3 separate regions of the Homo sapiens genome follow, and regions 2 and 3 are each linked to region 1. Evidence: fine-mapped expression QTL. A gene starts in region 1. Each other region holds a variant in brackets. All regions are shown on one strand. Distances are between the middles of the regions.

Region 1 (10,865 bases):
AACAGCAAGCGACTGTATCCAAGAAGCCTGGGTCTAGGCACCAGCCTTGACAGGCCTGTTCCTGGCTGTTGAGCTTCTCTCACCTTGCTTATTCTCCTCCACCCCAATCTCCTTCCCAGTAAGGAGTTTTCCAAGACCTGGAATACCTAGAAAACTCATTGGGTCTCTTTAAAACACTGATTCCTCAAGAGATGCCAAGTGCCTACTCAGCTCCCAGCCCTGGGCTGGGTGCCTAAGTCACAGAAGTGGGGAATAAGATGCCTGCCTTCAAGGAACAGCCTTGGCACAGGCAAGGTGGCTGAGCCCCTCTTCTCTGCCATCTCCTCATTGCCTCATGACCTATTTAATGCCTGCTGTAGGGGGAACGGAATTCACAAGGTTCCATGAAACCCCTGAAGAGCAGCCCAGTGTAATACTCTAACTCCCATGGCCTCTTCTAGAAACTTCTCCCTCATAGGTCCCATGTTTGAAAAAGCTGTGTCTGCCAAATTGTATTTACTAATAATCAATGTCTTCAATTTCTTACTAATCAGAGACATGTACCACCCCTAATCAACATAGGAGACCAGGGGGTACTGCCCTTCCAAAGTACCTCAATCCCCAGAAAAAGCAAAGATGGAGTCTGGCCCCATAAGCCTTGGGGAAGCCTAACTCAGAGCAATGGCATATGGGCATTCATCTCCTTCAAGATGCATGGCCTGGGGTAGGAGCTACCACTACTACTGTGGCTATCACATGAGGGACCAAAGACCTATGTTCCAGTCCCAGCTCTAACACTTCAGCAAAATCATTGAACCTTCATGGACCTGAGTTTCATCATCTGAAGAATGGGGATGATTCTTCCCCTCCTGCCTCCAGGGGCTGCTATAAGGATCAAATAAGAAAAGACACAAGAAAAAAAACCATCTGCTATAGGAATGTCCAGGATTACGGCAAGATTCTATGTCTGTAAAACGAAACTAGTAGTAGTTCCTACCTCATCAAACTATTGTGAGAATTAAATCAATGACAGTTACAGAACAGTTCCTAGCATTTTTCAAAGACCCAAAAAGATTAGGCTGTTATATAATTATTACTACTATTATTGCTACTTCTGTTAATGACACTATTATCACAATTACTATTATACCTTGCTACCCAGCTAAGGGATTCATAGTAGAGAAGTGCTAGAGTACAAAAAGTCTTCGTTTTATTTATTTATTTATTTATTTATTTACAGACAGGGTCTCACTCTGTCATCCAGGCTGGAGTACAGTATCACAATCATAGCTCATGGTAAACTCAGACTCCTGGGCTCAAGCAATCCTCACACTTAAGCCTCTCAAGTTGCTAGGATTACAGGAGCATACCACCATTAATTTTTTCATTTTTTGTACAGATGAGGCCTCTCCGTGTTGCCCAGGCTGATCTTGAACTCCTGGCCTCAAGTGATCCCCTCGCCTCCGCCTCCCAAAGTGTGGAATTGCAGGCATGAGCCACTATACCCAGCCAAAAAATCTTTTTAAAGGGGTTATCAACATCACTTAGTCTAGAACTGGGAGAACCAACAGTAGATTTCTTATACATTTTGTCCCTCATTAATGCAAAATTGAACAAAAAGTGCAGAAATCAAAACAAAAATTCACCTGCCTAACCTCAAGCTTTTCTGCTTCAAGAAATGGACTCCGAGGCCAGGCACAGTGGCTCATGCCTGTAATCCGAGCACTTTGGGAGGCTGAGGCAGGCGGATCACTTCAGGTCAGGAGTTTGAGACCAGCCTGGCCAACATGGTGAAACCCTGTCTCTACTAAAAATGCAAAAATTAGCCAGTCATGGTTGTGCACACCTGTAGTCCCAGCTACTTAGGGGGTGGCCGAGGCATGAGAATCACTTGAACCCAAGAGGCAGAGGTTGCAGTGAGCTGAGATCGTGCCACTGCACTCCAGCCTGGGCGACAGAGCAAAGCTGTCTTTAAAAAAAAAAAGAAAGAAAAAGAAAAGAAAGAAAAGAAATGGACTCTGGAGAGTATTAAAACATTTGCTGGCCAGGCATGGTGGCCTGCATTTGTAGTTCCAGCTACTTGGGAGGCTGAAGTGAGAGGATCACTTGGCCCCAGGAGTTCAAGGCTGCAGTGAGCTATGATTGCACCACTGCACTCCAGACTAGGAGACAGAGGAAGATTCTGTTTCTTAAAATTTTTTCAAAAATTAAAATGTTTTAATCTGCTAAATATGAGGAGCAACTGAATACATCCTGTAAAACCTCACACAACTTTCCTGTGCAAGGAGCCATTAGGAAAAATAAAATCAGCCATGTCAATGCTTTGTCGCTCTCACTTTATGAGCCAGATTAGAGGAGGCTCCTGCCCTCAACACAAAAATCAAACATTCAGAAATGCTCACGGCAAAGCTAAGAAATCAGACAACAGTAAAACATTTTTCATGTGGGGGGCGGGGGATGAGGGAGAGAACAATTACTCCCAAAACCCTTAAGTCTCTCAAAAAATTGTCACAGAAGGACGTCAGAAGTACAATCACCTGCCACAGGGCCCTGCCTTTGAGGGTAGGGAACACTGTCACACATTGCTTTTTCTAGGCCTGGGAGGAGTCAGCCAAGGCCCTGGGGGCACAGGAGCTCACTGTAGGAAAATCATTAGGGACCTCACAGACAAGTTACCATGGAAGAGTCAGCAAAGGTGTGGAAGGCTGTGCTCCAGCCTCCAGAGTCCCACACGCGGCCTCACACACCCAGCCCAAGGCTGCACCTGGTACTTTGGGACACTTGCAGCCCTTCCTCCCGCCAAATGAATGATGGGCCCTGCCCCTGGGTGACGCTAGTGAGATGCAGGCCATGGATCCCATCCCTCTCACCTTCTTAGAAACACTGCTCCAGCAACTGCCCCGTCTCTTTACTGCAGCATCGACTTCTTCCTCTCAGTGGGATCATTCCCATCAAAACAAACATGCTGTACAATCTCCCACCAAAAAAAAGAACCCTCCCTCAAACCCACATCCTCTCCAATTACCGGCTAATGTCTCAACTCCACTTTGCAACAAAACTACCTGGAAGATTTGCCTAACTGACTCCCTGTCTTCACCCCGTGTTTTATCTTCCACCTACTCCAGTCAGATTTTGTCCTTTAAGGCTTCTGTGACCATGCATTCTCCTGGGGTTTCTCCTACCTTCTCAGTCCTTCTCAGTCTCCTTGCTGGCTTCACCTCTCACCCCTCTAAACACTGCTTTGACCATCCAAAGCCTCAGAACATCTCTCTTCTGTCTGTACTCTCTTCCTAGGGGATTTCATCTAATCCCATGGCCTTGAATAACATCTATTATACCCAATGGGTCTCTTCTGTCCTCTCTCCCCACCAAGCTTCAGATCACACTATCTGACATACTCATATCTCAAATGTAAGATGGCAAAACAAGATCTCATGATTCTCCTCCACCCCAAACCGGCTCTTCCCATCTCAACGATATGAATGCTATCCACTCAGGTGCCCAAGCCCTGAGGAGTCATCTTTGCCTCTTCTCTTTCTCCCACAGACTATTCAGTCCATCATGAAGGTGTGAAGAGCCTATTTCCTAAACACAGCCTGAATGTGACCACTACTCCCTGTCTACTGTGCTACCACCCTCAGGCAAGCCACTTCTAACTCCTGCCTGGAAGAGGGCAACAGCCTCAGCTGCTCTCCTGCCTCCCCCTGCAGTGGCCACCTACAATCCAATCTCCTCACAGTGATCGTTCTAAAAACACACACCAAATCATGCCATTTCCCTGCTTAAAACCCTCCAATGACGTTTCACTGGGCTTAGAATAAAGTATGAAAATTCCTCACCCCGGCTCACAAAGCTTTGCGGCATTTACCTTTCTCCTACCTGTGACCTCTCCTCATGCCACTTTCTCCCTTGTGCACCACATTCCAGCCTTCCTGCTCCTTAAACTCCAAGCTCTTTTCTGCCTTAAGCCCTTGCCCTGGCTGTTCGCTCTTCCCGAAATGCTTTGCCAACTCATCATCACATGATGTCTCCTTCTTGTCATTCAAATTTTACTTTAAATGTTGCCTATTCAGAAACACCATCCCGATCTCCCAGTACAACCAAGCCACCCAGTCACTCCATGTCACATCACCTTATTTTAACTTTCTGCACAGTAGTAACCACGATCTGATATTATTATTTGTGTTTTTTACTTATTTTCTACTCCCTTCCCTCTCCTATTAGATTGCAAGCTCCATGAGCACCTAGAACTTTTCTGTTTTTTGTTCCCAATGCCTAGAACAACGTGTGAACGTGTGGCACACAGGAAAATTGTAATAACATCAACTGATGCAGTTATGAGCCAGAGAGGCCCACTGACAGCAAGACTCTGATGGCCCCAGCCAACTCCCCAACTTCACATACACACATATGAGGCAGGGCAATAGAACCGCAGCAAGGCCCTAGTCCTTAGGTCTGTAAATCTCACCCATCAGTATTTTCAACTATTATGCAAGAACCCAAACCAGAAAAGGAGGTTCCGGGGTTTTCTTGAAATAGGCTGCTTTATTCCTAACAGTAGTAGTTCTGACTCACAGTCGCCGAGGTACACCCAGTCAGTACTAGTCAGACCACCGTCCAGACCTTTGGCGAGCTGATTCATTCAGTGAACAAACATTTACCGAGTGCCTACTTGCTGTCCGGCACTGGGGCAAGGGGTCAAAGGCAGTGTCTGGCCTCCCGGAGCTCAGCAGGCAGAGGGAAACACGCTGCAACACAGACTCCCGCCGGAGTGGGAAAGCAAAGCCTGTACTGGCATAGGAGCCTGACCCGCGCCTTCACTTACTGCGCCCCAATCTGACATGGACTGATCCTACAGACCCAGGGTAACCTGGCTGGTGCGCCAACACTCCGGGGCTTTTGCGGAAAAGTCGCCCGTGGACTAACGGAAGCACCAGCAATCCCCCGGTTCAGCTCCGGCCGAAGAGACGCGGAGCGCTCGAGGAAAGTCATTGGTTGACCAGTTCCCTTCCCCACCCCCTCCCTCCCCGCAGGCCCGCGCAGTGGATGGAGGCCGGGGGCGAGGTTCCGACTCTCCAAGACCATCCCAGAGCCTGCGGCGGGAGAGGGGGCGTCCTCCTAAGCGAGATTCCCCTAGTCTCTCCCTCTCCCCACTCCAACCCCGCAGGCCCACACCAGGACAGAACTTCTCGTTCTACTCCTCCCACCCGAGCCCATCCAGGTCCCGGCACTCGCCTCTCCCGGCGGGGCGCAGCCCCAGACCCTAGAGGGGAGGCGTGCCCAGCCCGCACACCAGCACCCGAATCCAGCCGGATTGCAAGGTCCAGGGCGCAGAGTCTGCGGCCTCTTCCCCCCCGGCCCAGGTCCCCAGCGTAGGTGCGGCCCCCACCGCCTTCCTCTCGGAGGCCGCCAAACAACTTGGGCACACAAAACGTTGAGTGTGGCCGCGGCGCAGCGCGCGCCAACGAGCCCGGGCCGGCGGGAGCAGAGGAAGGGCGGGGCGCCCGGCGGGAACGGGGAGGGACCCCCCCCCCGCGGCACAGGTGCGAGCGCGGCGGCCCCACTCACTCACTCGATGAAGTAGCTGGCGCCCTCCTCCGTGAAGCCCTCCTCCCAGCCGCGGGGCAGGTCTGCGGAAACGCCAGAAAAGTCGGGTCAAACTTGGGCCGCCGCTGCGCGCGCCCCCCACCCGCCGGCCCGGCGCCCACCTGAGCGGATCATGTGGCCCGAGTTGACGGGCTCCCCGGTGCGCGGATGCAGCCAGGTCGTGCAGCGGAGCTGGTCACTGCGGGCAGAGAGGTGCACCTGTTAGCGCCGCCACAGCCCGCCGGGTGCCCGCCCGGCCCCCGCCCCCGCGCCCCCACCCGCGTCCCCGCGTCCCCGGGTCCTCGCGCCGCACTTGATGAAGAAGACGCGGCCATCCCGGCACACCCCGTAGGACCAATGCTCAGGTAAAGTGTCCCGCCCGACCGTCGCCGCCGCCATGTTCGCCGAGCGCGGAGCCGCCGCGGGGTGGGGGGGAGGGGGCGGGGGCGCGGGCAGGGGCGGAGGCGGGGGCGGTGGCGGGGGCTCGGCCTGCGCGTGGCCCGGCGGCGCCGCGAGGCGCTCCATCCAGGCGCGGGCTCCTGAGGGAGCGACCGCCCGGCCGGGTCCTGGCGCCCGGAGTTCGCAGCCGCTCCGGCCAACCCAGCGCAGTGCCCGCGGCCTTTGTCCCCGAGCCTTCCCCGCCCCCAGCCTGCTGGCACCGGCGCTCCCCTTTGCCCCCGAGGCCGGGAGACCCGGGCGGCGCGGGGGGCCGCTGGCGGGGGCCGCTGGCGGGCGCGCCTGGGCAGCTTCGGGGCGCGCGGTTGGACCCGACCAACTCCGAAAACGGCGAGCGCCCGAACGCTCAGTAAACCCCAGCCGACCCGCACCACAGAACTTCCCGACCCGGGAACTCCGCTTGTGTGTGAACCAAGTTAACACTCAGGTTCCTGCCATATTCCCAGCCTCCTTCTCTTCCCCTGTAAGGTTAATCGAGTCCACACGGGATTGTTGTGTAGATTAAATGAAGTAACAATCGCATAAAGTGCTTAACCGGACCATGGCATGTAGTAGGTGCTCTATCAACGGCAGGCCGAGCGCGATTTCATTTTCCCAAGTTTTCAGCTGGGATGTGAAACAGGAGGGAGCAGGGTTACCGCCACACACCACTGAGGTTGCAGGGATCGCAAGCTCTTGCCTTCAGTTTCTGTCAAGTAACAGAAAAAAGGGGTTTTGAGGGCTCGGCAGCACGTCCATCTCTGGAAGAGCGGTGGCCAGGCGGGGCCTCTAGGGGGCCCTGCAAAGCTCTTTGCAGTGGCGGCACCCTCTCATATTCGGGTCTTTACTCCTATCTTATCTCCTCGGGGAGCCCTCCCTGAGCCCTCTGCAAAGAAAATCCTTCCCCTCCTTCCCTCGCTATTTCATTACTTGTTTACATTTAATTGATATTTGTGTTTGTCTTGTTTGTTGTATATTAGTTCCAACATGTCAGCTGGATGAGAGAAGGGGCTTTGATCTACCTCATACACTGCCTGGTCTCCAATGCCTGGAACAGCACCTGACTCATGTATGCATTACGCATTCAATAACTGTAGGATGGGGTGGGGCACGGTGGCTCAGGCCTGTAATCCCAGCACTCTTGGAGGCCGAGGCGGGTGAATCACTTGAGGTCAGGAGTTCTATTCCAGCCTGGCCAACATGGTGAAACCCCGTCTCTACCAAAAAAATACAAAAGCTAGCCGGGCGTGGTGGCGGGCGCCTGTAATCCCAGCTACTCAGGAGGCTGAGGCGGGAAAATCGCTTGAACCAGGGAGGCAGAGGTTGCAGTGAGCCGAGATCGCGCCGCTGCCCTGCAACCTGTGCAACAGCGAGACTCAGTCTAAAAAAAAAAACTGCAGGATGAGTGAATGAAACATACTCCACACTCAGACTCCCGGCCACACACACACACACACACACACACACACACTGAGCAAAGACAGAGCAGCAGCTGGGCTCCAGCTGTTGTCAGGCCCAGCCTTCTCGGGACATAGGCTCTGATTGATGGGAGGAGGCGCGCCTGAAAGTGAGACTGTATGCAATGTGAGCACTAGTTATTCAGAAAGGTGCCCAAACAGGTGGAATTAGGCTGGACCCTGAAGGACTGGTTAGGTTTGACTGGGAAAAGAGCACTCCAGAGGGGAGGGATGGGAGAGCATGCACATAATTTTGGGAGGGCTGTGAGATGTTGATGAGACCATAAAGGGGCCCTTCCTTGGGAACAGACAGTGGTGTTGGGGAAGGAGGCATTTATGAGTTAGAAGAGGTAACTGGTTGCAGAGGACGGGGGACACCTGTCTGAAGGAACCTCCTGCCTCTGAGGAGGTTGTTGAGCAAATGAAAATAGGAAAGCGGTGTTTTGCTAGCTAAACATTGATTTTAAATAATACATTAAATGGGCAAAGGGTATGAACCCACAGTTAATAGAAAAGTAATACAGATAACTTTTAAGCAAATGAAAAGATACTGAGCCACTTCATAATAGAAGAACTGCAACTTACGGTGAAATACTATTTTTTTAGATGTCAGATTGGAAAAGATAAATTAGAAAAGATATTGGCCAGGCGTGGTGGCTCACGCCTGTAATCCCAGCACTTTGGGAGGCTGAGGCGGGTGGATCGCTTGAGATCAGCAATTCGAGACCAGCCTGGCCAACATGGTGAAACCTTGTCTCTACTAAAAACACAAAAATTAACTGGGCATGGTGGTGCATGCCTGTAATCCCAGCTACTTGGGAGGCTGAGGCAGGAGAATCACTTGAACCCTAGAGGTGGAGGTTTCAGTGAGCAGAGATCACGCCACTGCACTCCAGCCTGGGTGACAGAGTGAAACTCTGTCTCATAAAAGAAAGAAAGAAAAGATATTGTAGAGAAAGACATTCTTGTTCATTGTTGATGGGACTTTAAAATGTTTGAGCCTCTTCGAAGGCAATTTGGCACAGCTATTCCAACCTCAATGTCTTGACCTAGCAATTTCATGTCAGGAATTTATCCTACATTAGTGCTTACATGGGGCACAAATTCCAGTGTACTAGAGTATTCACTGCAGCATTGTCAGTAATTACAAAGAACTGGAAATAACCTTAATGTCTATCAAAAAAGACCTGGTTGATTAAACTGGCACATTCCTCAACAACAACAACAACAAAAACAGAATGCTATGCAAGCTGTAAAAAAGAATGAGAATAGATCCCTACGTACTGATATAGAATGGTCTGTAAGATATTAAATGGGCCAGATGCAGTGGCTTGTACCTATAATCCCAGTACTTTGGGAGGCTGAAACATGAGGATGGCTTGAGTCCAGGAATTCAAGACCAGCCTGGGCAACATGGCAAAACTCCATCTCTACAAAAGATACATTAGCCAGGCATGGGGCGCATACCTATAGTTACAGCTACTTGGGAGGCTGAGGTGGGAGGATCACTTGAGCCCTGGAAGTTGAGGCTTCAATGAGCTATGATTGGGCCACTACACTCTATTCTGGGTGACAGAGCAAGACATCATCTCTAAATAAATAAATAAATAAAGTGAAAAGGCAGGCTACAGTACTGTGCATGTGATATGCTACTGTTAACATACAGATATAGTCCCTACACTGTCAAGAATCAGGTAAAGTGATTGCCTCTGAGGAGGGAAACTCTAATAGGAATGGTACGAGATTTACTTTACCTTGTTTCCCCTTTCATACTGTTTGATCTTTTTATCATTTAAAACATATACATATAGATACATAGAATAATACAATTCATTAATAGGTCCAATAAGAGACACACTGAAATTATCTCAATAAATGCCAAAATATGTAATCAATAAAACTCAATGCCTATCACTGATTTTCAAAATTATATGTTAGAAACTAAAATAAAAAATAGTGACAAAAGAGTATGCAGAGAAACTTTATGTCTCATACATTGCTAGTGGGATGTAAAATGGTACAGCCACTCTGAAGAATAGTTTGGCAGTTTCTTTAAAAAGGAAACTTTTTTTTTTTTGAGCCAGAGTCTCACTCTGTCACCCAGGCTGGAGTGCAGCAGCACAATCTCAGCTCACTGCAACCTCTGTCTCCTGGGTTCAAGCAATTCTCCTGCCTCAGCCTCCCGAGTAGCTGGAATCACAGGCATATGCCACCAAGCCCAGCTAATTTTTGTGTTTTTAGCAGAGTCAGGGTTTCACCATGTTGGCCAGGCTGGTCTTGAATTCCTGACCTCAAATGATTCACCCACCTCAGCCTCCCAAAGTGCTGGGATTACAGGTGCAAGCCACTGAGACCAGCCAAAAACTAAACACTTACTTACCATATAACCCAGTATTCACACTCCTAGGCATTTATCCCAGAAAAATGAAACATTTTTCCACATAAAAACTTGTACATAATTATTCACAGCAACTTTACTTGTAATAGGGAAAAACTGGAAATAAGCAAATGTCCTATGATAGGTAAATGGTTAAACAACTGTGATATATCTATACCATGGAATAAAACTCAGTAATGAAAAGGAATTGATACATACAACTTGGATGGATCTCAAGACATTATGTTGAGAAAAAAAAAAAGCCAATCTGAAAAGGTCTATAATGTTCTCAAAATATATTTTTTTTAAATGTAGAGATGGCGAACTGATTATTAGTGGTTGCCAGGAGTTAGGGATGGTGGTGGGGAGTGGGAGGATGTAAGGATGTAACTACAAGGGAATAGCATGAGGGAGATCTTTGTAGTGATGAAATAATTCTATATTTTTCTGGGGTTTTGTGTTTTGTTTTTGTTGTTGTCGTTGTTGTTGTTTTTGAGACAGAGCCTCCTTCTGTCACCCAGACTAAAGTGCTGTGGTACAATCTCGGCTCACTGCAAACTCCACCACCAGGTTTAAGCTATTCTCATGCCTCAGCCCCCCCAAGTAGCTGGGATTACAGGCACACACCACCACGCCTGGCTAATTTTTTTGTATTTTTAGTAGAGCCAGGGTTTCACCATGTTGGCCAGGCTGGTCTTGAACTCCTGGCCTCAAGTGATCCACCCTCCTTGGCCTGCCAAAGTACTAGGATTACAGGCATGAGCCACTGCACTGACCATAATTCTTTATCTTGACTGCAATCATAGTTATACACAAATTGACACTCAAATAAAATAACAGAAGTATATAAACACATTGTATCAATGTCAGTTTCCTGGTTTTGATATTGTTCTGTAGTTTAATAAGATGTAACCATTGGGGGAAACTGAGTGAAGGGTAAACAGAGACCTCTCTATTATCTTTGCAAATTCATGTGTCTATAATTATCTCAAAATTAAAAATTATTTTAAAATGTGTTAGAAAATTACAAA
Region 2 (9,455 bases), 220 kb before region 1:
TCAGGCTCACTGACATACGACCGCAGCTCCACCTGTGGGCAGAGTCCCAGGTGATGTGACCTGCCAGTGTCACACCCCTTTACCTCTCCCCACATGTAGAGTGGCAGCCCCAGGGTCCCCCGCTCACCCTGGAATCCCCATTCACACACTGCCCCAGCTCCCGGTCTCGCTTCCTCTCGTCTGACTGCCGCTTGAGGCCCCGCACAGATGTGTGCCGGATGATGGTGGCCTCTCTTGGCAGAGGCGGCACAGCCGGGGGCTGGTCCTCTGGGCTGTAGAGTTCGGGGAGTGGGGGCCTGGGAGGTGCTTCATCTTCCTGCTGAGAAAGAGAACCAGACCAGTGGTCAGCGAGACGGAGCTGGAGGGAGGACTGCTAGGTACTGCCACAGTGGAGGTTTAAAGGGTAGGAACAGGCCACATCAGAGCCACAGAACATGACTGCCTCAGCCAAGGAGCACTCACACTTCCCCTGGCGGAGCAGTGAAGAAGGGACATGCTCTGCTCCTCTATCCCCTCAGAGGTATACAGTTTCTATTCCTCCAAGTGTTACCTGTATAACTGTGTCCTGAAACCCAGGACTCAGGTCTCCTGGGTCCATGCCCTCGGTGCTGTGCTGAACTGCTCCCTCCGCTCATCTGGAGTGCACATCGCAGGCAGGCTGCTAACCCTGCCCTGACTTCCATGCTTATCACAGCACCACCTACCTGGAGAGTAACATCTACCCACTCAGCAGTGCTCAGCCTGAGCCGGCTCATTGGCCCTACACGAGCTCTGGCGCCTTCAGCAAGGTGGGGACCTGAACAAGGACAGAGTCTACATCCTCCTGGCCTTTCTATCAGAAATGTGCATGGTTACAAAATATTTCCTCCTTCCTGACTCAGACAGAACAGGCGGTCAGGATGAGTGACTCACTGCCTACCATGCAGTTCATTCCCTAGAATGTGATGAATGCAACATTTTCCTTGAAACTCCCTGTCCACAGTGTTCTGTGAGGGCTGTGGTTCCTCTACATATCAACAGACCGGCCCCTGGTTGCCATGAACACCCACTCGCAGGACTAACGACCATCATGCCTTCCACCTCCTAAATTCCCTCTTTCTCGGTCTAATTTGGTTTTGTTTTTAAGAATTTTGCAGAGTTCAGGAAAGGGCACTCCAAGCTCTTGGAAAGTTCAGGAAAGAGCACTCCAAAGCAAAGGTTTATCAACAATCTTCACTGATGTGTGAAAGTTAAGCCATCTGCCTAAGATACGCACTGGTTCTCTGAGGATCCACAGTTTCCAATCCTGACAAGATATCCGAATCACCAATTTCTAAAAAGCTCCCCAGAAAGATAAACATAAAACATTGATTGCCTTTGATTGAATGGAATGTCTGGAGGCAGAGGGTGGGAAGGAGACATGTTATTATGTACTTTTTTATATCTTTTGCTTTTGTATCTTTTGAGAATATTATCTAATTTATTTTTAAAAAGACATTAAACTCAAGAAAATAAGTCAAATAAAAATAAAAGAACTATAGCCACATGCAACAATGTATATAAATCTCACAAACATAATGTTGAAGAAAAGATGCAAGACACAAAATAGTATATAGAATTATATACCAGCATAATCACAGTGTTTAGGAGTCAACACAGGTACTAAAATTAAAAAAAAAAAAAAAGGCAAGGGGATTATTATCCAAAAAGTCAAGATTGTGGTTACTTCTGGCAGACAGGAAGCAGCTTGGCCTGGGAAAGAACCCACAGGCTTCTGGTTGCTGGCAGTGTTCTATTTCTTAGTCTAGCTGTTGGTATAAAACAGGTGGTCTCTTTATTGTTATTTGTTAAATTATATAATCCTGTTTTATGTCATTTTCAGGATGGATATTATTGTTTCACAAATATAAATGGGTTTTATTTTGTTTTGAGACAGGGTCTTGCTGTATTGCCCAGGCTGGAGTGCAGTTGTGTAATCACAGGTCACTGCAGCCTCAAACTCCTGGGCTCAAATGATCCTCCTGCCTTAGCCTTCCCAGTAGCTGGGACGACAGGCAAGCAGCACCACGCCCATCTTATAAGTGTTAAAAACAAGTAAGTAATAAAACAAATGGTAAAACTGGCAAACACACATATATTCCTAGGAGAGAGGACCTCTCCTGGTGATCCTGATGCTCACCCAAGCTGAGAAAGCCCTGCCTGAGAGCCACAGATGACCAAGCTGAGGAGGAGCCTCTGTGACCATCTACAAAAGGGAAAATGAGGAGGCTCAGGGAAGGGACGGACTTGCCTGAGGACACAGTGAGAGAATCAGTCCCGGAATCTGGGTGTCCCAGCTCCTATGCCAGTGCCTTTTTCCCCTACGCCCTGTCCCAGCTGGCAGCATTCTGCCCTATGTTGGCAGCCATCTGCCCCAGACATTCCTGCTGTTTGTTTTGGAATTTTCCCTCTCCTGTTTTAGGGCTAGAGCTCCAGTCCACCTCTTGGATCTGGGATTGGGAAGGAGATCTCAAGATGCTGAAATCCACAGTGACTCTCTGGCTGGGTGCTGGGCCATATCCTGGGTCCAGCTCTGGGCCCTGGACTATGGCTGGAAGCAGGTAGATGGTGAAGACCAGGGCAGCAGAACTCATGTGTTTTACCCAGCACTGTGCACTGACCTCATCAGAGGTCCAGGCACACACAATGCCCAGGTAAGTCTCCTCCAAGCCTTTGTTGGCAAAAATCTGGAGGGCCCCATTCCGAGGTCCACTCTTCTATGGCTTCCCTGCACTGGGACCAGCCTCATTGTGTTCTCCAGCCAAGGCTGGCCTGGCCCTGGAGGCGTGAGCTCTCTTGGGACCTGACCACATCTCCTATTTCTTTAAAGTCTCCTGCATTCCCAGACTCTGCCAAGAGCTTGGCCCCTTTCTATGCCAGGCAAACCAAGGTGCTGGCCCAGTCAGCCACAGAGGCCACAGACCGGATCTGGGACTGAAAGCCCAATTAGATGGCAGATGGCACAGAATAAAAGAGAAGGGCCAGGAGATGTGATTGGATTCACTAGTTAGCATGGAGACATTGAGCAAATGTCAACAATTTAGGCTCTTAGTTTTCTTCTCTGTGGAATGGGGATACTGCTCTTGCTGTGTATACTCTGCGAGGTTATTTTAAAGATCAAAGCATCCTCACAACCCAGCCCAGTGCTCAGCGGCGGGTGAAGGGAAGGACACTTTTCCACTGGACTGAACTCACTGCCCACAGGCTGTGTAACTGCAGGAGAGCCCCCTGCGGATTTGCACAAAGGTTTGCATGGGGACAGCTTCGTCCACAGCCACACACCTCTCTGCAGATCACAAACTCCACCCTACTCAGCACGCTCACTTCTTCTTGGTGGGCCTCAGTTTTCCCAACTGCAAAATGGGAGAGTTGGGTTAGATCATCTTCCAGGGCTCTTCCAGTTCTGACAGTCTAAGGCACAATAGCAGGGAAATACTACTTTTTAACTGCTTGTGACTAAGGACTCCTTTAGGACGCTGGCTGGGTCCATTTCCCCAAGTTTTCCCAGGAGTTTCTCTCCCAGGAGAAGGTAATCTGAGGACAGAGAGGAAACAATGGCATTCAGCTCCTAGTTATCACTACTTACAACTTTGGGCTTCGCCTTAGTTGGTGACTGAAGGGGGGATGTCACTTTCCTCAGCTGGGGTGGGTGAGGTCGGTACGGCACGTAGGTTTGCAGCTGGGGGAAGAGTCGAACCTCCAGAGGGGTCCGCACAGGGCTGGTGGGAGGACTGGGCTGTGGGGGCGGCTTGCTCTCAGAAGTTGAGAGTGAAGGCACAGGCGGGTGAGGAAACAAAGGCACCGTTTTTCTCTCTAAGGGGCATAGAAGGAAACAAAGCACGGGATGGAACAAAGACCCCCTTCCTTGGAGGATGAGTGGAGTAATTTAGCACCTCGAAGACTCAACCTCCCCAAGGGCCATCCCACCCACCTGGTTCCCAGCCTTCCACCCTCCCACCACCCTGCCCCCAATCAGATCCCCCACATCCAGGAAGATGAACATCTCACCCGGATTTTTTACTGACTCCACTAGAATTCTGAAGTTCTCTTTATTTGCACTCAGGCCTGCAGTGACATCTTCAATTCTCCATAGATCTTTCTGTATCTGCGATTTCTCCTGAGGAAGACGAAGTGGTGGGTTTGCCTTCTTAGCTCCTTACAAGTTTCTTCTTAGGACTTATCCTACCATTTCAGACAGAGCCCCCCGCCCTGAGGGGCAGCATCCCCTCTGGAAACCCCACTAGTGCTAGAACCAAGCCTGCTTCATAGCTTTCTAGGTAAGCATAGACAAGGAAAATGCCCACGATCCAGGGAGAAATTTCAGAGTAGCTTTCAGCAGTCCAGCTTGCCTACCTAATTTAAAAACAGACTGCCGTAAACACTGTGCCATTCCGCTAAAATACTGTATGACATAC[TTAGAG/T]TAGTCAATTTCGTAGAGACAGGAAGTACAACAGTGGTTGCTGGGGGCGGGGGAGAGGGAAGAATGCAGAACTATTTAATGTGTATAATGTTTCAGTTATACAGGATAGAAAGTTCTGGAGATTGGGCGCACAAAAATGTGAATGTACTTAACACCACTGAACTGTATACTTAAAAATAATCAAGATGAGTCGGGTGCAATGGCTCTTGTCTGTTATCCCCGCACTTTGGGAGGCCAAGGAGGTAAACACTTGAGGCCAAGAGTTTGAGACCAGCCTGGCCAACATGTGAAACCCCATCTCTACTATAAATACAAAAATTAGCCAGGCATGGTGGTGTGCGCCTGTAATCCCAGCTACTTGGGAGGCTGAGGCATGAGAATCGCTTGAACCTGGGAGGCAGAGGTTGCAGTGAGCCGAGATCATATCACTGCACTCCAGCCTGGGCAAAAGAGTGAGACCCTGTCTCAACAAAATAATAATAATAAAGGTGGTAAATTTATGTTCTACGTATTTTACCACAGTTTTTTCCTTTTTTTTTTTTTTTTTTTTTGAGATGGAGTTTCACTCCTGTTGCCCAGGCTAGAGTACAATGGCGCCATCTCGGCTCACTGCAACCTCCACCTCCCAGGTTCAAGCATTTCTCCTGCCTCAGCCTCCCAACCAGGTAGCTGAATTACAGGCGCCCACCACCACATCTGGCTAATTCTTGTATTTTCAGTAGAGACGCGGTTTCACCACATTGGCCAGGCTGGTCTTGAACTCCTGACCTCAGATGATCTGCCTGCCTCGGCCTCCCAAAGTACTGGGATTACAGGCGTGAGCCACTGCACCTGGCCTTTACCACAGTTTTTTTGAAAGGCACTGTCCTATGTAATCATGACAGAAGGGAAGGCAAGGACTAGAGTTTACACCATCTCTAGGATATAAAAAACATTTTTAAAAAGTCAGCTGAACCCGATATTTGAGGTTTAGTTAAAAATACAGTAGTGAATGGAATATTAGTTGGCAATAAAAAGGAATGAAGTGCTGATGCATGCTACAACAAGGATGATCCTTGAAAACATGTGAGGGAAAGAAGCCAGTCACAAAAAGCCACACATTACATAATTCCATTTATAAGAAATGTCCAGACTAGTCAAATCAGTAGAAACAGAAAGTAGATTAGTGTTTGGCAAGGGCAGAGGGGACGCTGGGGGAATGAGAGTGACTGTTAATGGATACAGGATTTCTACTGGGGGATGATGAAGTGTTATAAAATTGATTGCGGTGACGGCTGTATCATGCTGTGAGTATACTAAAAACCACTGAAACGTATACTTTAGAAGGGTGAATTTACTTATTTACTTATTTATTTGAGATAGGGTCACTTTGTTGCCCAGGTTGAAGTGCAGTGGTATGATCAAGGTCACCGTAACCTCAAACTCCTGGGCTCAAGTGATCCTCTCGCCTTGGCCTCCCAAGTAGCTAGGAGTACCGGAGCATGCCACCATGCCTGGCTAGTTTTTCTTTTTCTTTTTCAGTTTTTGTAGAGACAGGGGTCTTGTTATGTTGCCCAGGATGGTCTTGAACTCCCGGCTCCAAGTGATCCTCCTGCTTTGGCCTCCCAAAGTGCTGGGATTATAGGCGTGAGCCACCATGACCAGCCGAAAGGGTTAATTTTATGACATGTGAAATATATGATAAAGCTGTTAATTTTTTTAGCACAATAAGAGTACAATTTTTATATATCAATTAAAAAAAAATTATAAACTCCAAAAAAATACATATCTACATACAATGGGGAAGGACCTAGGCTATATGATCATGTGCATTCTGACAACCAAAATCGAATGGGAAGAGGATCTAAAAGAGGTGCAGAGGGGTCTGATGGGGTTAAGGGACTACGGCCATCTCTTGACGGGGCTGTTTAAACATCAAATGTAGTATTCTCTTGACTTTTAAGTTAAAATGGGGGAAAGATAGCCTTGGTCCCACCCCATGGACTAAAATAAAGGCAGGCTTCCCACCCCATCTCCTCTCGAGGCACCTAGCTACCCCTCAACTGGAAGAGTTCTTGCACTGCATGAGCCTCATGGACCTGCCCAATACTGCTCATTGATCCATCCCTACAGGGCCTGGCACTTAGCAGGTTCTCAGTGCATACATGCTACGTGAATAAAGGACCAGTCATGTAAAAATTCCCTGAGCAAATACTTTCCAACAGCCAGGACAACAGAAGTCCAAAGCCTCCTGTCCCAAGGTGGGGCTCACAGTTCTCACTCTCTCTCTCAACCCCTCCAACATAAAGCACATCCTCAGGTCTGGCAAGCTAATAATGGGTTTGATTCTCAGCTCCATGCCAAAGCATGAGCATCCTAAAACAGACAGGTGTATTACCGAGCCCAGGGCATGTGTATGTAAGAGGATGACCTCTAGGGCTGAAGTCCCCAAGCTGAGTGTTGAGAACAGGTAAAGAAAGGGATTAAACGCAGTCCTCTTCCTCCTCCATAGCTCCCTGGCAAAGCTCCCCTGTCAGCCACTTTCTTGCCCCCCTGATGCCTTTCTGTCACCCCCACATGTGAGAAAAGAACAGAGAGCAGAGAATAAAAAAGGCTGGAGAGTCCCTATCCTTCTCCAACGGTGATGGAATTTTGGGCCTTCATAATGAGGGGAGGGGAATTTTGGGGGAAATGAGGGGGTGGAGTTTCATTCCTGCCTCCTCCCACCACACTGGGTAGAAAGGCTCCTATGTGCTGCTTTCAGCAAAGCCTTGAACTCACTGTTTTAGCCTTGACTGAAAAGGCTATTTTCCTGCAGCCAAACCTGACTACAGGGAGGCGAATTTCTAAGCCCTGTTACTGAGAATCTGCACATGGGGCTGCAAGTGCATCTGCAGTGCTGATGATTTTTCTAGGGCTCTAACAGCCTGCCTGGCCTAGAATGACACCAAAGAAGCTAGCACAGTGCCTGCTCAAAGCAGGGCTTTGTTAGCTTCCCAGGTTACTGTGCCACTTAGGGAAAGTGTGAGCAGTGCCACAGGCAAGGTGGAAATCAAGATGCAGGCTCCAGGCTGGCCTATCTGAGAGTAAGTCATGGGGCTGAGTTCTCCAGGGCGTCTGTGACAAAGACCTGTCACAGTGTATCTATTTGCTTTTGGGAGGGAAGGGGGAAAAAAAAAAGGATTCTAGGCCTGCTATATGTTAAATCACCATGACATAAGGCACAGTAAAGACACAAATGGCCAATAATCATACGAATAGATATTTAACCTGCTAATAACTAAATAAAAGCAAATTAAAGCAAGATGCCATTTAGTAGACTAGTAAAACTAAAAAGATCAATTACAAGTGCTGACAAGGATGTGAGCAAATAGGTCCAGTACTTTCATTTGCTGTGGGTAGGAAGATAAACAGGTGCAGCCCTTTAGAAGGTGGTTTGGCATATCCATCAACTTTTAAGATGTATACTCATTCCAACCCCAGCAAGTCCACTCCTAGGAGCCTATCTTACACAGATACTTGTAAACAATGTGAAAAGGCAGTTACACAAATCCTTATCACACCACCATTTATAAAAGCAAAACGCTGAAAATAATTAAATGCTATCAGAAGAGGAATGGCTAAATAAAGTAGAAAACACCCAGACTATGAAATAGTATGTAACAGTCAAGAAAAACAAGTTTAATTTCCTTAGACTGGCGCTGCCCAATACACCTTTCTGAGATGATAGAAACCTATAATCCCTGCTGTCCAAGACAGTAGCCGATAGCTGCATGTGGGTATGGAGCACTTGAATGAGTCTGGTGTAAATGAGGAATACATTTTGAATTTCAGTTACTTTTAATTAATTTATATTTTATTGGGCAGCATAAATTTTGGATTAACTGTCCTGGAAAGATTTCCACGATATCAGGTTATGACAAAAAAAGTGAGTTGCCAAATAATGTGTAAGTGTGATCCTCTTCAAGTAAGCCTTTTACCTGCTCCCATTCCTGAATAAATCATATGATTCTATGCATGTGCATATTTTTGAAAATGCATAGAAAATGGTCTAGAAGGCAATGCCACCAATAGATAGCACTGATGACACATAGGGAGGGTGATGGGAGGGGCAGAAAGGGAGAGGGGGAAGAGGAACTTTTATATCATTTTTTGTTTTTGCTTCTTACTGTTTTGGTCTTTTCAAAGACACGTATTCATGTACCATTTGTGTAATTACAGGAACAAAGAATGAAAAGCTTAAAAAAATTACTGCTAAAAATAAAGCAAAAAAAAATTACTGCTAAAAAAATTCAGATCACTGAAGTCCAAGAAAATAGGTATAACCTGGGCAGTTTTATAAACTCATAACCAGAAATAATTGAAGGACTTTGTCAACAACATTCACCTAGTATTTTCAAGTCATTACGGTAAATGCTGCGGCTACAAAAAAGAGTAGTGAAATGTTAGCCAGTGTGGATGAAGAGAAATTATGGGAGGAAAACGACCCCAACAGCAGCAGGAGATAGACAAGTGCTGGGGAGAGTCTTGTAGACCAGCCCTGAGCCACAGGCGAGGGTCTCCTCCACGTGGTCCTAGGCAGGGCTCTCTGGGAACCATCTCTGCATGAATAGAGGGACAGCAGGGCCCTTGGAAAAGCCTCAGGGCCCACACACCTACACCCTACTCCAGAATTTCCTTCAACTTTCTGGGGTGAGGCTAATGTCTGGAGAGTCAACATACTCATTAAATCACTTAAACAAAGAGCCTTGGTTAGAACTATCTTATCAGTTAGCAAGCCCAGCACCAAAAGTGGCCCAGCAAGGTGCCTCATACACAAGAAGCCTCAATTAATGCTTGCTGAATTCAAACACACTTATTATGTCAGGGCCCTGAAAGGAGAAGATATAGATCTTAAGTCAGGGGAGAAAAAAACAGGTTATTTTCCACTTAAAAAATTGTGAGGGTGGGGTGGAAACCTGGTTAAGCACCACAGTGGGGGAACACTGGGCAATTTGGAACCCAATTTGGAAGAAGAAAAACCACACAGGGCCTTTCA
Region 3 (10,865 bases), 46 kb before region 1:
CTGGTGCCTTGGGAACTAGATGGCACTGAGTGGAGCTCTGAGTTAAAGATACAAGAGAAGCAAATGCATACTTGTTCCTCCCACTGCAAGACAATCAGAGTGACGAGGAGCAAGGCAGCCACTGCAACCCTCTGGATTCAGCCTCCTTTTCTGTAGATGAGGTGGCCTTCCACTCCTTGACCCAGGATGTATCACGGAAAGACAAGGCCTTGTACACAGTGCAGTCCTCCTAGAGGAGGGCCATGCCACTTCTGTGCAGCTCCAGGACTGGGACAGGGATGGTGACATTAGAAAAGCAGAGAAGCAAGTGCCTGACCTATAACCATATTTGGTATTTTCTAGACTTCAGCATCTTTTATTTTTAGAGGTATGTGTTCCAATTTGGTTGAGGTAGCTGCAGGCTCCTTGTACCTTGCTTAATTTAGGACTTTTTTTTTTCTTTTTTGAGGGTGGAGTAGGAGTTAAATACAGCTTTACTCAGCCACCCCCTGGATTCTAAGCCCTAAATTTAACTCCAAAGAAACTTGTCTTGCCCTACTTCATGATTCCAAACCATAGACAGAAACTATTACCTGTTTCTGCAAATCAGAGAGCCCTGACAATGGAGCACCAGGGAGGTGTGTCATCCATCCTGGGGTGCTGGGCTGCAACACTGGAGCTGTCGTCAGCTGACTGGGGAGAGGGGCAAGAGGGGGAACAAACGGCCCTACTTTGTGGCCTAAATCTTGATGAACATGTCCCCTGGGGAGCCAGGAGAGCTATTTGTACAGCCAGTCAGAATGACCAGGGTGTGGCCACAAGTGTCCCATTCGAGTAGCCCTAATCTGGCAGCAGGTATCCAAAAGGACAGGGACACCCTGGCATCTGATCAGTAGGTGCACTGCATTTGGACAAAAGAATTAACTACCTGTTTCTCCAACCCTGCCCCCAGCCACCTCTCATTGCTTTTATGTTTAAGGTCTTATTCTTACTTTATTATATTCGCAATGTTGTGCAACCAACGCCACTATGTTCCTAAAACTTTGTTACTACCTCAAACAGAAGCACTCTTAGTTATCAACAACCCCCGATTTCTCCCTTCCCTCAGGCCCTAGAAACCTCTAATCTACTTTCTGTTTCTATGTATTTGGCTATTCTAGGTATCTCATAAAAGTGGAATCATAGAATTTGTCCTTTGGTAATTGGCTTATTTTACTCAGCATGATGTCTTTGAAGTTCCTCTGTGTTGTGGCATGTGTCAAAATTTCCTTCCTCTTCAGGGCTCAGTAATATTCAATTATATGTATATATCACATTTTGTTGATCCATTCATCTGTTGATGGAAACTTGAGTTCTTTTCACCTGTTGGCTACCATGAATAATGCTGCAATGCACCTAAGTGTACAAATATCTGTTTGAGCTCCTGCTTTCAATTCCTTTGGGTATATACCTAGACATGAAATGGCTGGATCACAGGGTAATGCTATTTAGATTTTTGAGGAACCACCAAAGCAGGGCAGCTGCACTATTTTACTTTCCCACCAGCAATGCACAACACACAAGAGTTCCAATTTCTCCACATCCTCACCAATCCTTGAGCTGTACCCAAGCCTAGGAAACAGCCTTTCCCTCATACCCCAGGATGTCTGCACACTCTTGGAACTTCCTGAGGGGCCTTGGGGTAACAGCAAAGGACTGCAACCAGAGAAGCAACTAGGAGTGTTTCACTCTGGGATTCCTTCAGTTTGGTAAAACTCCAGACAAAAAGCATGAGGGCTGGCTGGGCAGGGCCTTTCCTGCTTCTGAAAATCAGAGCACCTGAAATTGGAGGTCCAGCCAGCTGTGCGCTCTCTTACAGGGCACTGCGCTGCAGTAATAGAGCATTCCTTAGATACTGGGGGACACCAGGGGTCTCCAAAGTGCACAGCACTCAATCCTGAGGTGCTCAAGATGACCCACGGAGTTCTAGAAGAAAACAGTAGAACACCTATTCAGGTTTATTTTTATGCCATCCTTTTACAATTGTGTGTGTTTTCATTAGCACAGCAGGTATGTATATAATTTATAAATGAGCATACATGTGTTGGGGCAAATGCTCATTTATTAATGGGATATACATGATTTAAAAAAAAAAAAAAAAGGTTTGGGCCAGATACAGTGGCTCATGCCTGTAATCCCAGCACTTTGGGTGGCCGAGGCAGGCAAATCACTTGAGGTCAGGAGTTTGAGACCAGCCTGGCCAACATGGCGAAACCCCGTCTCTACAAAATATACAAAAAAAAACCCAAAAACATAAGTCAGGTGTGGTAGCGCGTGCCTATAGTCCCAGCTACTTGGGAAGCTGAGACACAAGAATCACTTGAACCTGGGAGGCAGAGGTTACAGTGAGCCAAGATCACACCACTGCGCTCTAGCCTGGATGACAGCACGAGACTGTCTCAAAAAGAAAAAAAAAGGTTTGAAGACCCCTATCTTAGACCAATTCTTCCTTTGTTGTAGTTTTTTCCTCTGAATTTTAATGTATTGTGTCAATGGCAATGAGAAAGATATCTGGGGGAAATAACTCACAAAACCCACCACCCTCATCCCCTTAGTGCCTGACACTTCTCTATTGCCAACTCACCTTTGGGTTCTCCTACTCCTGGGGGAAGTGAGAGACAGGCATCTGTAGACAGAGATGCAAGGGGAGGGGAGAATGGGCAGTGTATTTTCTTCTCCCTGAGACACATACCCTACTCCAGCTCAAAGCCCAGAAAAGGGAGGTCTGTATCCGAGAAGTGAAGAGCTCAGCTTTGGAATCAGAGATACCTGTGGGTGAGTAGTGGCAACCCCATTAACTTCTGAGGCAAATTAGGTCATTTCTTTTGGCCTCGATCTTCCCATCTATGAAATGGCAACAAAATACTAAGTATCTATGTCAGTGAGTGGCTGTAAGGAGTAAATGAGAGAGTCCAGATAAAAGCACTCAGTGCACTGCCTGCCCAGCACATTCCAGCTCTTTTAATAAAACAGGTAGAAAGGGCCAGGGGTGGTGGCTCACACCTGTAATCCCAGCACTTTGGGAGGCCAAGGCAGGTGGATCACCTGAGGTCAGGAGTTCGAGACCAGCCTGGCCAACATGGTAAAATCCCATCTCTACCAAAAATACAAAAATTACCCAGGAGTGGTGGCGCGTGCCTATAGTCCCAGTTACTCGGGAGGCTGAGGCAGGAGAATCACTTGAACTCAGGAGGTGGGGGTTGCAGTGAGCTGAGATCGCACCATTGCACTCCAGCCTGGGCGACAGAGCAAGACTCCATCTAAAACAAACAAACACATGCACAAGACACAGGAGAAGGAAAACTCTGGATAGAGGTGGAGAGAGTGAGGACAGATGCAGAAATGGGACTGGAGGCATGGTTGTGCATGTATGTGTGTGTGTGTGTGTGTGTGTGTGTGTGTGTGTGTCTAGGCTGCTCACAGTTATAAGAAACACCCCAGGTATCTCACAAACATCTACCAGGCAACCACTAGTGTGACACACCTTGAGGGATGAAGATATGAGTCAGGCAGAAAGTCCACCCTGTGGAGCCCATTTCCAAGGGCCACACTGTGAACCAGAAGCCCACTAGGGTACTGGGAAGAGCAAGCAAGGCTCAGGGGCATCTGGAGTCACTAGCCAGGGTGCACAAGTAAAACTGGGAGCTTAAGCAGAAGGGGCGTAACTGAGATCCAGGGCCTCTAACAAAAGGTACCAATCTGCAGTAACACACACCACTCAGAATCCAAGTGGAGCCTTGGGTTCCGTTTCCTTAAATTTTCCATTCGGATTTTTTTTTTTTTAACCTTTTCTCTTTTCCAGAGCAAACTCTGCAGGACTTTGTCATCTCAGATATCAGAGCAGAAACTCCACTCCCTGCTTTATTCCTTCAGTCAGCCCCACCCCTGCTCTGGCCATGAAGGTTTTATTGCTGTCGTCCACCTGGAGCCTGCCTGAATTCAGGCCACCGTTTCTACTGCCACCACCTTCACTGGGCTATCTCACAGCAAGAAGAGCTGCCCCAGCCTTGTGGCTTCATGAAGTGGCGAAATGGTTCATCTACAAATGGGCTACACATTAAATTACTTTTCAGGAACAAGGAGCCAAGCCTTAGGGCCTCCTGGAAAGGCCACCGAAGATACGGGGCCCTTGAAACTCTCCCAGTCAGCACAAAATCACTGATTCCAACAGAAATGCAGAAAGCATTCTAAGACACACATGCTCTCAATGTCCTTTGTTTTTAAATTCTCTACCTTATTTTTTAAACTGGCTGTTAAATTTCAGCTCAACAACTCATCAAGTACATTATTAACTGGCAAACGCTTCTGTGGCTTTGCTAGTTAAAGTTTAGAAAAGAACATTCCCATTAAAATATAATTTCTCCAGCAACCTCTAGGATAGCGCAGAAACCATTCCATTAGGGCAGACCCCAGCTAATCCACACTCCCTACCACTCAGTCAACACAGGATTTCCCCAAGTTGGCTTCTGTTCTCTTATAGCAAAATAAGCAAAAATCTAGGTGATTCAAATTGACCTTTGGCTGGGGAGCTCTAGGCGATGCTGGTCATGCTGTGTCTCTGCCACACAGGGGAAGGTGAGGGGAGGAAACAGCTCTGCTTAATGCCATGAGGCCCTCCATTCTTGGGGCCCACCCCTCACAAGGCACAGTGTAGGCACAAGTCACCTCCTGTCAGAGAGTCCTGGGCCTCACAGCACCCTAAGTCCAGGAGAGAACAGCCCCTACTCCATCACCCCTGCTTTGCCTCCCTCCAATCAGCTCCCCTTCTGCAACACTCAGGTGCACTCCAAACCAGCTTTCTCTGACGGACAGGCCAGGAGCCCAGAATGAGCACCACACAAGCACCTGTTTTATGCTCTCCAGGCACCAGAGTGATTCAGGCACCCCCATTTGACACACACACACTTGCCAGCTTGCTGCCTCACCCCACCCCTCACCAGCCAACTTCAGACCTTTCTTTAGACTAATTGCCCAGAAAGAGGTACCCATCTAAAGATAAGGAAGTCATTTCCTGTCTGACTACCTCCCATTCTCCCTTGGCATGGAAAGAGGGGCTCAGGGCATATAGGAAAGTGAGGAGGAGGCCTGGAGAGACGGAGGGAAAGAAGAAGGGAGAAGAATAGATAGAACCCCACTTAGCCCAAGTCAAAACCCCAACTGAGATCTAGAGCAGGCAGAGGGAATAGACTGCTAATGGGCTTTACCCACAGGAAGTCATCTAGGTGTCAAAGGACAGTTGCCAAGATCCTGAGGGGTTTGGCAAACGTACCTTGAAGTGAGGAGGCCTCACACACCTGCTGACACTCATCAGTAGAGATCTGCCTCCCTCTCCTCCCAAACAACCACAAGGGAAACTGTTCCAGACTCAGCTCTGGGCACAGAGACTCATGCACAGCACACACGAGGCTCCACAGTGGGCCACATGGAAAAGGCTGCTCTCCAGCTCTACTCCTGCTCAACTCATGGGCAAGCCAGCGCTGAGATCAGGCCTCCTCCTGGCCATGTCTGTGGGCTCAGGTCCTTCCAGGGCAAGGCTCTCTGCACTGCCCTCTGTCCTCCAGGGGTCCTCTGGATGCTGTTGTCCAACTGTTTCTGCCAGGCCATCTGGGGTGGTTCACCCCATGCCACATCAGATTAATGCAACATACTGCCAGAATTGCATGCCTGCACACCCTCCTTGAAGGGCTGCTTTGTGTTTCTTGCTTACAATGGAAAAAAACAATTTTTGCAGCGGAACAACACAGTTTGGAGTCTTCAATAGAGCAATGGAGGCCAAAGCCATCCAGTACACCCATGACTCCCCCACCACCAACAGCGCTTGCA[T/C]GCAATGGCTGGCATGATAGGCCTGCAAACTCAACAAGCCTCATAGGGATTTCACATCCCCCACTTAACACTCTATACACTGCAGACTTCTCAGGAACACGCTAGTACCTGACAGCCTCCAGAAACGGATCTACTACTGCTTTCTCTAATATGCCCCCCATACCCACCTATGCCAAGAAGTTCTTAATGTCTAACCTAGGTCCTTCCTACTTAAGTCCATTTAGGGCCTCAGTAAAAAAGCAGAATGTGTGATGTCCTTCCTGGTGACCTTTAATATATCATGAACCCAGAAGGCCGAGCTTATGGGCCATGCAAAGGAAACTGAAGGGGTTTTAGGGTGTGTGGGAGGAGGTGAGAGAAGATTCTGGCTCTTTTGATGCAACTGACTGCCTGGTGCTGTCTCACTTTCCCATCTCCCATCCCCGCCACTCCCAAATGTCAGTTGCATCATATCACCTGACTGCAGAGTGCTTGAGCTGTGAGGGAGAAGCAGGAAGCCAGATGACAGAATTAGAGCTAAAAGATCTTAACAAGCTGATTCTCTGGACCTAATACAGCCATATGGAATCTAACAGAGATAAGCTTAAAGACCTAAATTTGAGACCAGCAGTTTAAGAGGAGAGAGAGAAGCTGAGCAGCAGTGCTTGATGTAATATGATTACATCTTAATAGGGAACCTATTTTGATTTTAGGTTGAATTGATTCAAGTATGATATTGAGGAAAAGACAGATGATGATCCCATGCTATTCTGAGCTGGCCAGTCACCAATTCTACATATTGCAATATGATGGACATGCATTGCTCATATGCATCCCTTCACTGGCAGAAGTCACACCTCCCATATCGTCATGCTGCAACTGTTCAGCCACCACGCTCTACCCCTAGGACAGGCCCATGTTCCAAGCAGGGGATCATAATCTCCCCTAAGAAGAGATGTATAGCTCCTGGGAGAGTGAGCATTTCTCTTCCTTGACAAAAGAGTTAGCAGACTTGAAAGATGGAGAAGGCAGGGCCCCCAAAATGCCCTTTGAGCACCAGAGTCCAACAGTGCCAAGGCCAGGTCAGGATTACACTGGGAGTTCCCAGATACTGGTGCCAATATCCTTCCTTTTCTCTTGAAGCTAGTTTGAGTTGGGTTTCTGTCACTTTCAACCTGAAGAGCTTACTAGTACATACACTATTAAGAGGATTACAGCTAAAGGGGAATATGCCCAGAGTGATGTCAAAGACAACGAGTAAACTAAAAGCCAAGTTTCATGAGGGAACAAGGATGATTTAACCTGGAAAGGAAAACACATAGGGCCACATGGGAGCCTCTTCAAACACTTAAAAGGTGAAAACTTTTTCTATGTGGGGACAGAGGACAGACCAGGACATTGGTAGAGGTTACAGAAAGGGGGTTTTCTCAGAACTTTGAATAATACAACAAAACAGATGAATCTGAACCTACCTCCTACTCCACTCCCTCAGACTCACTGGATTAAAGCAATTCCCTTTCTCACTCCAAAGTTGTTTCTTATCTTGAACAAATGGCAACTTCTAGAAGCCTCAGCTTCCAACCTTTATAATGGGGATAATAATCCTCCCCTACCAGCTTCAAGGTGTTATTTTAAGGATCAAAAGAGAAAATGTAGGCTGGGCACAGTGGCTCACTCCTGTAATCCCAGCACTTTGGAAGGCTGAGGCAGGGAGAATTGCTTCAGTCCAGGAGTTTAAGACCAGCCTGTGCAACAAAGTGAGACCTTGTCTCTGTAAAAAATAAAAAATAAAAAAAATAGCCAGATGTGGTGGTGTGTGCCTGTAGTCCCAGATACTACGGAGGTTGAGGCAGGAAGATCGCTTGAGCCCAGGAGGTCGAGGCTGCAGTGAGCCGTAATCGCACCACTGCACTCTAGCCTGGGCAACAAATCGAGACTCCATCTCAAAAAAAAACAAAAACAAAAACAAAAACTAGATACTGTGCATGAAATCACATTGTAGAAGAACAATTAACGAGGAATTGTCTATAACAGATTAGTTAAGGAAGCAAGAATCAAAACTATATGTACAACATGATCCCAATTTTATAAAATTTGTATTTGCAATGAGAAAAGACAGGAAGAAAAAAATGTTAATAGTAGTTAAACCTACAGGATTATAAATATTTTTTCCTTCTTGGGGCTTTTCTCTGCCTTCCTAATTATACAATAAATAGGTCATCTTTTAAAATCAGAAAAAGTTATATATCCTTTAAAGTGCTTTATCAACTGTAAAGAGCTATGCAAACAAAATAATGTGGGTGTCAAACAGGTCTCCCGGACTTTTCTGATCTGAGCATAGCAATGAGTCCTTGATTAGAGAATATCTTACTGTGTTTTTAATAGACAGAAACAGACGAGTATCACAAAGAAAGCACTTCAGTCTTAATTCAAAAGACCCAGATCTAAAATTCTGCATGACCTTTACACAAGTCAATTTCTTCACCAATAAAAGGAGGAGAGTGACAATATAGCTTTGTATGTAAGTGGATTTAAACACTCACTGAGAACCTCCAAATGCCAGCCTGTTCTGTAATTTTCTTTTATCTACTAATGTACAGGGAACAGTTTCCATTTCCTTAGTTAATATTTCACAGCACCATTTTTAATAGATGCATAATAATCCACTGTACAGAGGTGTCATGACTAATTTAGCCAACAAGTGGCAAAAGTTTTTTGTTTGGTTTGATTTCTGAAATACAGATATTTAATCTCTTCAGCAACCTTTCCAGGTTAGGTGAGTTCCAAGTGCTGAACTGTATAGGATACGCTCAATAATGGAAGCTGTTATTACTACCATAACCACTATTACTATTACCACACAGGTGCCAGGGACATATCCAAGTTCAGTTGAGTATTTGGGGCTTTGTTAAATGTTTCTCTGGAACCCAAGAAAGGTCAGGGCAGGAGATACATATTTGAATTATTATCTGGATACAAATACAGAGAAAAACATTTTTATTCTATTTTTTTCTTTTATAGTTTTTTTAAATATCTTTTTTTATTTTTAAGTGAAGGGATATTTTCGCAGATGTCATTAAGGACTCTTATCATTTTCCTGGTTTTTTTTTCTTTTTTATTGAGACAGGGCCTCGCTCTGTCCTCTAGGCTGGAGTGCAGTGGCACCATCTCAGCTTACTGCAACCTCTGCCTCCTGGGTTCAGGTGATTCTCATGCCTCAGCCTCCCAAGTAGCTATGATTACAGGCATGTGCCACCACATCTGGCTAATTTTTATATTTTTAGTAGAGATGGGGTTTTGTCATGTTGGCAGGCTGGTCTTGGACTCCAGGCCTCAAGTGATCCACCCACTTTGGCCTCCCAAAGTGTCAGGATTATAGGCATGAGCCACCATGCCCAGCAAATTTATTTTAAGTTTTTGAGATGGGGTCTCACTCTGTCTCCCTCGCTGGAGTGCAGTGGCATGATCCTAACTCACTGCAGCTTCAACCTCCCAGGCTCAACTGATCCTCCACCTCAGCCTCCTGAGTAGCTGGGACTACAAGCGCACACCACCACACTCAGCTAATTTTTGTATTTTTTGTACAGACGGGGTTTTGTCATGTTGCCCAGGCTGGTCTTAAACTCCTGGGCTGAAGCAATTCTCCTGCCTCAGCCTCCCAAAGTGCTGGGATTACAGGCGTGAGTCACTCCGCCCAGCTATTTTTATTTTTGAACCAGTCTCTCTGTTGCCCAGGCTGGAGTGCAGTGGTGTAATCACAGCTCACTGCAGCCTCCATCTCCAGGCTCAAGTGATCTTCCTGCCTCGGCTTCTCAAGTAGCTGGGACTGCTGGTGCGCACCACCATGCCTGGCTATTTTTTTCTTTTTTTTCAGTTTTTAGTAGAGATAAGGTCTTCCTGTGTCACCTAGGTTGGTCTCAAACTCCTGAGCTCAAACAATCCTCCTGCCTTGGCCTCCCAAAGTGCTGGGATTACAGGTGTGAGCCACTACACCTGGTCAAAACATATTTTAAAATCTTGCCTCCTTCTTGTTTTCCAAACACCTCCAAACATAAATAGCCATTAACTTACCAATACAATTACACACGTGCTGTGACTCAGCAGCTGGATTTTCATAAATGCCTAAAAAACTAGAAACCTCGGCCAGTAACCATACACCTTGACATAATAAAACAAAGTGTTTCCTAAAGAGGCATAAGCCCCAAGGCCTCCAGAAAATCCATTGGCCTAGATGGTTTTATAGAAAGAAAGTGGATTAATAGCCAAAAGAGAGAGGCTTGACTCTCGCTTGCTCCTTCCTTGAATCAAAGACCCTCTGTTTCCCTTTTTCTCCATTTCTGGCCCATCTGCCTTACAGGCTTATTGTGAAGACTGGGTGGGCCCATGTTGGAAAGCACCATATGACCCAAAAAGTGCCTGGATGTGTACTTTTATGTACTTTATGGTCTCCCTCTGATCCCACCAGGCACTTGCCAAGCCCCAGATCAGCTCTCTCACAGGGCCTTCCAGCCCCTTCTTCCCTCCAGATGGGCAAGAACACAGGCCACTAGAAAGCCATCACCTGCAGTGTTCAAATCATGCCCCACACAAGGTAAAGAGGTGATGTGGGGGCCAGAATCCCAAGTAAAGGGCCACCAACACAAAGACATCAGACTTGGCAGGGACCACCACACAGGGCTCCCAGATCGACCCCCTTCACACCACCATGCAACTGCCTCAAACTCTCCCCTGATGGCAGCAGAGGTGAAAAGAGAAGTTTCTCTTGGTGCCCCTTTTAAAAGCCATGCACTGTGCTGAATCATGATGTGAAAGAGTCTAACCACATGGTTCTCAACCCTCGCTGCACATTAAAATCACTTGGGGGCTTAAAGGAAAATACTGCCAGGGACCCAACCTCAGAGATTCTCATTCAATTGCAGGTGAGGCCTGGGGATCAGTGAGGGACAGGAACTTAGACTGAGCAGCTGCTTCCTATGATGGGCCCTATGCCTTGAGCCCACCCTGTCTGCCTCCAAAGTCCATGCCCTCCCCTGTCACCACTCTGC

Direction of the effects. Alleles are on the strand shown, and positions count from the first base shown. SD is a standard deviation of normalised expression in the study named. Not every link is listed here.
For the expression in sigmoid colon of the gene that starts at base 5,977 in region 1, allele T in region 3 goes with a lower level than allele C (small effect, 0.18 SD a copy in GTEx).

Evidence for each region.
Region 2: its variant is fine-mapped to the expression of PLEKHA7 in monocytes (TOPMed, PIP 0.93).
Region 3: its variant is fine-mapped to the expression of PLEKHA7 in sigmoid colon (GTEx, PIP above 0.99).

What each region holds. Positions count from the first base shown.
Region 1 is chr11:17,008,438-17,019,302 of GRCh38, forward strand. PLEKHA7 (pleckstrin homology domain containing A7) reads right to left here and starts at 5,977. Exons shown (of 27, transcript NM_001329630.2): 1 at 5,879-5,977; 2 at 5,688-5,764; 3 at 5,552-5,609. The coding sequence starts at 5,964. RefSeq lists an enhancer at 3,739-4,500 and a silencer at 4,385-4,679.
Region 2 is chr11:16,790,884-16,800,338 of GRCh38, forward strand. PLEKHA7 (pleckstrin homology domain containing A7) reads right to left here. Exons shown (of 27, transcript NM_001329630.2): 18 at 4,027-4,135; 19 at 3,605-3,831; 20 at 128-316; 21 at 1-32. Among named protein-coding and RNA genes, the nearest start is that of C11orf58, 57 kb to the left of the region's middle. RefSeq lists enhancers at 1-162, 163-663. The variant TTAGAG/T (reference allele first, on the strand shown) is at 4,434.
Region 3 is chr11:16,962,902-16,973,766 of GRCh38, forward strand. All of the region lies in intron 3 of PLEKHA7 (pleckstrin homology domain containing A7), which reads right to left. Among named protein-coding and RNA genes, the nearest start is that of SNORD147, 42 kb to the left of the region's middle. The variant T/C (reference allele first, on the strand shown) is at 5,842.